Homo sapiens: one gene and its partner. The protein of the gene in region 2 purifies or fractionates together with the protein of the main gene of each other region. This does not show direct contact. Each region holds a gene or a part of one and is shown on either strand. Other genes may lie near its edges.

Region 1 (4,150 bases), on a different chromosome or scaffold from region 2:
GCCTGGGCGACAGAGCGAGACTCAGCCTCAAAAAATAAAATAAAATAAAATAAAATAAAGACAGTGAGAAAATGTGGTCAGGAGGGCTGAGACTGGGAACCAAGACTGCTGTATTTGCCTTGCTTTGTTGTCAAAAGCTCTTAGAGCTCCCATTTTCTACCCCCATTAACAGGCCTGAAGGGTGGTGCGGTGGCTCACGCCTGTAACCTCAGCACTTTAGGAGGCTGAGGCAAGTGGATTGCTTGAGCCCAGGAGTTCAAGACCAGCCTGGGCAACATAGCGAGACCCTGTCTCTGTGGGAAATTTAAAAATTAGCCAGGTGTGGTGGTGCGCACCTGTAGTCCCAACTACTAAGGAGGCTGAGGCAGAAGGATTGTCTGAGCCCAGGAATTCAAGGCTGCAGTGAGCTATGATTGTGCCACTACACTCCAGCCTGAACAACAGATTGAGACCTTACCTCAGTAAAATAAAATAAAATTTAAATTTTAAAAATGTAAGAAAAAAAGGAGGCCTGGCACTACTTCTAGGATGCCCCAAATTTAGGCAACTCTCACAGTCCCTTGAAAGAGAAGTGGCAGCTGGGTATAGGCCCTCCCAAGTGTCATGCCCCCTGACAGTCCTGATGGACTCTGCCCTGTGTAAGATTGCATCACCACCACCACCACCTCTCTGGGCTTCCCCAGACATCACAGGAACACGTTCCCCGCCCCAACCCCCGCCGGCTCTGGCCCTCCTCCACATCATGCTCCACATCATGCTCCAGGCCAACTGGACTCTGGGCGGCCAGCACAGGCAGGGTCAGGGGGTGACTTCTGTGCCTCGTGGCACTGCCACCTGGGCCTGAGCAAGAGGGCTCCATTCTCCTACCCGCCCAAACCCTCATCCCTGTCCTAGCCCCAGTGCTAGAAATAAAGAGACCAGAATTTTCCTTCTGGCCTAAGGGCCCCAGAGGAATACCCACTGGAACTCACAGCTGCCTCATGGAAACTGCTGCAGCAGTGGTGAAGCTAGAAAGACTAGAGGTATGAGGGAAAATTGCCCTTCCCCACCTGGCTCATAAGGCGTTCCCTCCCCCAAGTCCCAGACCTTGGGGACTGAGCATGTGAAATCATCCTCTTTCTTGCATCATGCGTGTCCACATTGCACCCCCCCACCCCCATACCCCTACTTCAGGCCCAGTCACCATGGCCAGATGGTGAAACCTGAGCTGATGGGGAGGAGGACCTCCACCCCCTGCAGGGGCCTGATGGGCAGCACAGCTGGCCAATCCTGGGACTCAGAGGGTAGGTCGGCTGGCTGACCACTAGGTTTGGAAGACCCAGGCAGCTGGCTCTAAAGAGGCCCCAGGTCAGTAGCCAGACATGAGCTGTGAGGGTCAAGCACAGCTATCCATCAGATGATCTACTTTCAGCCTTCCTGAGTCCCAGACAATAGAAGACAGGTGGCTGTACCCTTGGCCAAGGGTAGGTGTGGCAGTGGTGTCTGCTGTCACTGTGCCCTCATTGGCCCCCAGCAATCAGACTCAACAGACGGAGCAACTGCCATCCGAGGCTCCTGAACCAGGGCCATTCACCAGGAGCATGCGGCTCCCTGATGTCCAGCTCTGGCTGGTGCTGCTGTGGGCACTGGTGCGAGCACAGGGGACAGGGTCTGTGTGTCCCTCCTGTGGGGGCTCCAAACTGGCACCCCAAGCAGAACGAGCTCTGGTGCTGGAGCTAGCCAAGCAGCAAATCCTGGATGGGTTGCACCTGACCAGTCGTCCCAGAATAACTCATCCTCCACCCCAGGCAGCGCTGACCAGAGCCCTCCGGAGACTACAGCCAGGGAGTGTGGCTCCAGGGAATGGGGAGGAGGTCATCAGCTTTGCTACTGTCACAGGTGGGTGAGGGAGAGAGCAACAGGCAAAGAGCAGACAGGGAAAGGGAGGCAGAAGGGGAGCCTGGCAGGAGCAGCAGAGGGAGTGGGGTGTGGCAGGAGAAGGAGGAGCTGGGGCAGGGACTGGTTGCAGAGGACACAAAGCAGTCTCTACTTTTCTAGAGGTAGGTTCGAGGGAGAGCAGTGGGCAGGGCTTGGGGAGTCTCAGAGGAGAGCTTCATCTCTACTCACATTTTCTTTCCCTTTTCTGTCTTTCGGGCAGACTCCACTTCAGCCTACAGCTCCCTGCTCACTTTTCACCTGTCCACTCCTCGGTCCCACCACCTGTACCATGCCCGCCTGTGGCTGCACGTGCTCCCCACCCTTCCTGGCACTCTTTGCTTGAGGATCTTCCGATGGGGACCAAGGAGGAGGCGCCAAGGGTCCCGCACTCTCCTGGCTGAGCACCACATCACCAACCTGGGCTGGCATACCTTAACTCTGCCCTCTAGTGGCTTGAGGGGTGAGAAGTCTGGTGTCCTGAAACTGCAACTAGACTGCAGACCCCTAGAAGGCAACAGCACAGTTACTGGACAACCGAGGCGGCTCTTGGACACAGCAGGACACCAGCAGCCCTTCCTAGAGCTTAAGATCCGAGCCAATGAGCCTGGAGCAGGCCGGGCCAGGAGGAGGACCCCCACCTGTGAGCCTGCGACCCCCTTATGTTGCAGGCGAGACCATTACGTAGACTTCCAGGAACTGGGATGGCGGGACTGGATACTGCAGCCCGAGGGGTACCAGCTGAATTACTGCAGTGGGCAGTGCCCTCCCCACCTGGCTGGCAGCCCAGGCATTGCTGCCTCTTTCCATTCTGCCGTCTTCAGCCTCCTCAAAGCCAACAATCCTTGGCCTGCCAGTACCTCCTGTTGTGTCCCTACTGCCCGAAGGCCCCTCTCTCTCCTCTACCTGGATCATAATGGCAATGTGGTCAAGACGGATGTGCCAGATATGGTGGTGGAGGCCTGTGGCTGCAGCTAGCAAGAGGACCTGGGGCTTTGGAGTGAAGAGACCAAGATGAAGTTTCCCAGGCACAGGGCATCTGTGACTGGAGGCATCAGATTCCTGATCCACACCCCAACCCAACAACCACCTGGCAATATGACTCACTTGACCCCTATGGGACCCAAATGGGCACTTTCTTGTCTGAGACTCTGGCTTATTCCAGGTTGGCTGATGTGTTGGGAGATGGGTAAAGCGTTTCTTCTAAAGGGGTCTACCCAGAAAGCATGATTTCCTGCCCTAAGTCCTGTGAGAAGATGTCAGGGACTAGGGAGGGAGGGAGGGAAGGCAGAGAAAAATTACTTAGCCTCTCCCAAGATGAGAAAGTCCTCAAGTGAGGGGAGGAGGAAGCAGATAGATGGTCCAGCAGGCTTGAAGCAGGGTAAGCAGGCTGGCCCAGGGTAAGGGCTGTTGAGGTACCTTAAGGGAAGGTCAAGAGGGAGATGGGCAAGGCGCTGAGGGAGGATGCTTAGGGGACCCCCAGAAACAGGAGTCAGGAAAATGAGGCACTAAGCCTAAGAAGTTCCCTGGTTTTTCCCAGGGGACAGGACCCACTGGGAGACAAGCATTTATACTTTCTTTCTTCTTTTTTATTTTTTTGAGATCGAGTCTCGCTCTGTCACCAGGCTGGAGTGCAGTGACACGATCTTGGCTCACTGCAACCTCCGTCTCCTGGGTTCAAGTGATTCTTCTGCCTCAGCCTCCCGAGCAGCTGGGATTACAGGCGCCCACTAATTTTTGTATTCTTAGTAGAAACGAGGTTTCAACATGTTGGCCAGGATGGTCTCAATCTCTTGACCTCTTGATCCACCCGACTTGGCCTCCCGAAGTGATGAGATTATAGGCGTGAGCCACCGCGCCTGGCTTATACTTTCTTAATAAAAAGGAGAAAGAAAATCAACAAATGTGAGTCATAAAGAAGGGTTAGGGTGATGGTCCAGAGCAACAGTTCTTCAAGTGTACTCTGTAGGCTTCTGGGAGGTCCCTTTTCAGGGGTGTCCACAAAGTCAAAGCTATTTTCATAATAATACTAACATGTTATTTGCCTTTTGAATTCTCATTATCTTAAAATTGTATTGTGGAGTTTTCCAGAGGCCGTGTGACATGTGATTACATCATCTTTCTGACATCATTGTTAATGGAATGTGTGCTTGTATGGTCTTGTGTTACAGTCTTTTTCAGTTTTAATTTCTAATGTGGTGAATTGATAGATGTAAATCATATGAACAAAAGCTCA
Region 2 (3,500 bases):
TGCTTACTCTATGAAAACCAAAAGGCTGGGTGCTTTGAAAGGATATACAGAAACATAAGATTCAACCTATGACTTGAAGGAGTTTACAATTTTTAGAAGTGAAGTGATGTATGCAAATACTAATAATACAAAGTCATGTCAAATATATTATACTGAAATAGCAACCTTGGTACTTTCCCTCTCTGTACTTCTTTATATGTAACCATTTTCTCACTCACAGGTATCCACAAAATAATTCTCAGAGAAGCAGGATTTTTAAAGCAGAGAGAAAGAATAAAACACGTTAATTTTTTTTCAACTTCAAAATAAGCTCTTGAAGCCCACATCAGACACAATAATTGAAAGCAAAAGCTTTTGATTTTCAGGAAGAAATGTTTGGCTGAGGTTCTTGAGAATCAAAAGGGAAGACCCTGACAGATTAAAATAGAGTTTATGCTTCAATAGTGATCTGGAAAAAAAGAAAAAGAACTCACGAGGGATGAATGCAGGATGAAGGTCACCTAGGCTAGGTATATGGAGCTTACCCTCACAGGAATGTGGTGTGGTCAGAGAATTAGTTATACGGCCCAAGGGGACAATGCAAAAGGGAATGGAGTTGGTATTAAGGTTCTGCCAAGCCTCACCGTTCACCAGCAACAGAGAAAAAGTGGAAGCCACTCTAAAACCTGTAGGGCGCCCCATGTTGCATGCGCTGAGGACACCCATTGGCTTTTCTCATCATTGTCTGATGTGTTTCTTTAAAAGTTCCTTACATAGTTACTTTTGATCATTCAGAAGAAGGCATGCCTGCTGGGGCCCCAAGGATTTGTTGAGCCTTTCTAAACTGAGCCATGTGGACACATTTCTTTAGAGTTGATGCCAGTCATTCACGTGCTCCCCAAACAGAAGGTGGGGGTCCTTGAAGTCCAGAATACAGTTTACATGTGCAGGAGGAAGGCTTGGAACTTGTACTTGGATGAAATGAGACAACGGTGAAATCTATACCAATGGAACGTGATACATGTTGTGAGAGAGACATTGAACAGAGAGATAACATAGTCTGAGAGGAAGGCAGAAGAGATAGTGCTTCAAGTGGAAGGGTAAAGGAAAGTTTAGCATTTGAGCTTCGCTATGAAAAGCTTCAGCAACTGAATGAAAGTGGGCACAAGGTCAGGTTCAAGGTACAGCAGAGGATATAGTTGGGATAAAGGCATGAGCATATGTCGAGCACCCTGCTCAGTAATATCAATCTGCTCACACCTTAGTTATATCCTGCAAATTCCTTATTTCTCTTACCTGTAAGTTGGAAAAAATAAGAATAGATTTTGAGATATTCATGGAAGAAAGGGAATATACATTTTACTAAGTACCAGTCAATCACCAAGTACTATTCGGGATACCTTACACATATTATCACATTAAATCTCATGAACTAAGTGTTATAATTATCTTTATCCTACAACTTGAAGAAATTGAGGATCAGAGAGGCAAAATAACTTGCTCGAGGACATCTAGCCATTAAATGGCAGTGCTGATATTCCAGCCCAACCATTTCTAACCCCCCTTTCATGGTGCTTCCCAGTGAGTTAACCAATGGTTTAATGAAAAAAAGCAAGGTGTTTGAAAAATGTTATCAAAATTTGCAAAGAATAGCAGTCCTCATCACCATCAAAAACATTATGCACTTAAAAGATTGTATGATTATGGGTTTAATGTTTTGATTTTTTAAAACATTATATTTTCTTTGCATGTGAATCCCTTTTAATTCAACACAGATGGAACGTTGATTCCAGTTATGCTATGATCCTAGTTCTGGGCTAAGCTTTAAAATGGACATAAAAGAAGCATAAATCAAGTGCCTTGGGAAAATGACGGGCTTTTAAGGAAAGCAAAACACACATAAGAGAACAAAGAGATGAGATACTATCATGTACTAACAGAGGGAAGCAAATGAAAAGCCTGGTAGAAATTCAGAAAAAGAAAAGATGGTGTGGATCAGAGTGGAGAAGGCTTCACTGAAGCAGTAGCCCTTAGCTAGAACTTAATAATATAGAAAACAGTTTCTTGAATTGCTATGTGGTCTTTTTTTCTGAGAAGACATAAACTCTGTGACTAGTTTTCAGTATTTTGACATGAATTCTTTTCATTTCATGACAAATGGGAACACCAAAGCAGTGTGGTGCAATGAAAGATGATGAAAGCTCCCCAAAACCAGGGTTTGAATCCTGGCTTTGCCACTTACTGGCTACACATGGACAGGTTACTTAATTTCTCTAAGCCTCCTTTTCTTTATCTTAAAAGTAGAAATAATTAGTACCTAAAATTATGAGATCATTAAGGAGAATAAATTAGGTATAGTAATATTTTCTTATAATCGGATCAGCACTGGGCTTGACTCACATAGAATGCTCAACCAATGTTAACTTCTGTTTCCTGAATCTGAGTTATGGTAAAGGAATGCATGCCAAGTACTTAGCCAGCTTATGGAAGATTTGAGCTTACAATGTCTATTTCCCCAAAACAAATTATGATTTAAAGTCATCCACAAAAACTGATTTTGGCCAATGAGTGGGAACATGTCTGTAATAACTGTCTAAAAGTTGAATTAGAGGTCACATTCAAACAAACAAACAAAAAAATCATAATGCTTTCAGCGTAAATGGATTATTGACCTTAAATAAAAACATTTATTTTGCTATGAGATGGAATTTACCTATACTAAATCACTATTATTTCTTATTCCTAAAATGAAATATTGACATCCAGGAAGCTACCCTATCCATGCAAGTGACAACATTAAGGCCAGCCTAGAAAGTTGAGATTAATCTGAGTCAGTAAAATATTCAGAAAGACAATCACCAAAATGAGGACAATAAATTTCAAAGTACAGATTAAAAATGAAATTAATCCGAGTGAGACGGAACATTGCATCTCCATTTAAAAAGATTCCAGGACATGCTCATAAATTTGATGGCATATCTCTGGAGAGGAAGAAAATCTTAATAGCTAATGGTGGAAATTGATATTAAGGAAAAGTGGTACTTATAGGAATATGGAGTAGTAAAGAGAAACAAGTTGTAAGAAATAATATGTTTTATTATGCAGTTTTTCATGTTTAATGCAACAAACATCTAGCAAGTGTCTATAATATATAATAGGCATTAAGATAAAATGGTTAAATACTAGGGTCCCAACAGAGCTTATTTTATTTAAACAAACAAATCCAGTGAACCTTTCATTCATTTGTTCTCCCAAGAAGTTCAGGTCTATGAGGGGAAACAGATAAGCTAATCAGATATGACAGTGAGTACAGTGATACAGGTATGTATTAGGTGCTATGTACCTGAGCCTTAAAGGAGGAATTAGCATGAAGGAAATAAGGTTAGTTAATCCTATCATTTCAAGACTGGTACTTTTTCAACATCTCTGGAAGTTCATCCACTTTGGGGCTCAGCTAATCGTACTAAAAACTCTTGAGCCTTTCTTGTCTTCGTCATCTACTATGCTCCCACCTTACATAG

The links. Proteins that work in one complex are often made in the same cells at the same time.
Region 1: the proteins of COLEC10 (region 2) and INHBE purify together in Homo sapiens (affinity purification with mass spectrometry; 3 studies listed by BioGRID and IntAct, with this or other methods). This does not show direct contact.

What each region holds. Positions count from the first base shown.
Region 1 is NC_000012.12:57,453,957-57,458,106, forward strand, and holds INHBE (inhibin beta E chain preproprotein), read left to right. Parts: upstream 1-1,350; 5' UTR 1,351-1,580; coding exon 1,581-1,878; intron 1,879-2,137; coding exon 2,138-2,892; 3' UTR 2,893-4,069; downstream 4,070-4,150. UniProt on the Homo sapiens protein: Inhibins and activins inhibit and activate, respectively, the secretion of follitropin by the pituitary gland.
Region 2 is NC_000008.11:119,098,247-119,101,746, reverse strand, and holds part of COLEC10 (collectin-10 isoform 1 precursor), read right to left. Parts: intron 1-3,500. UniProt on the Homo sapiens protein: Lectin that binds to various sugars: galactose > mannose = fucose > N-acetylglucosamine > N-acetylgalactosamine. Acts as a chemoattractant, probably involved in the regulation of cell migration.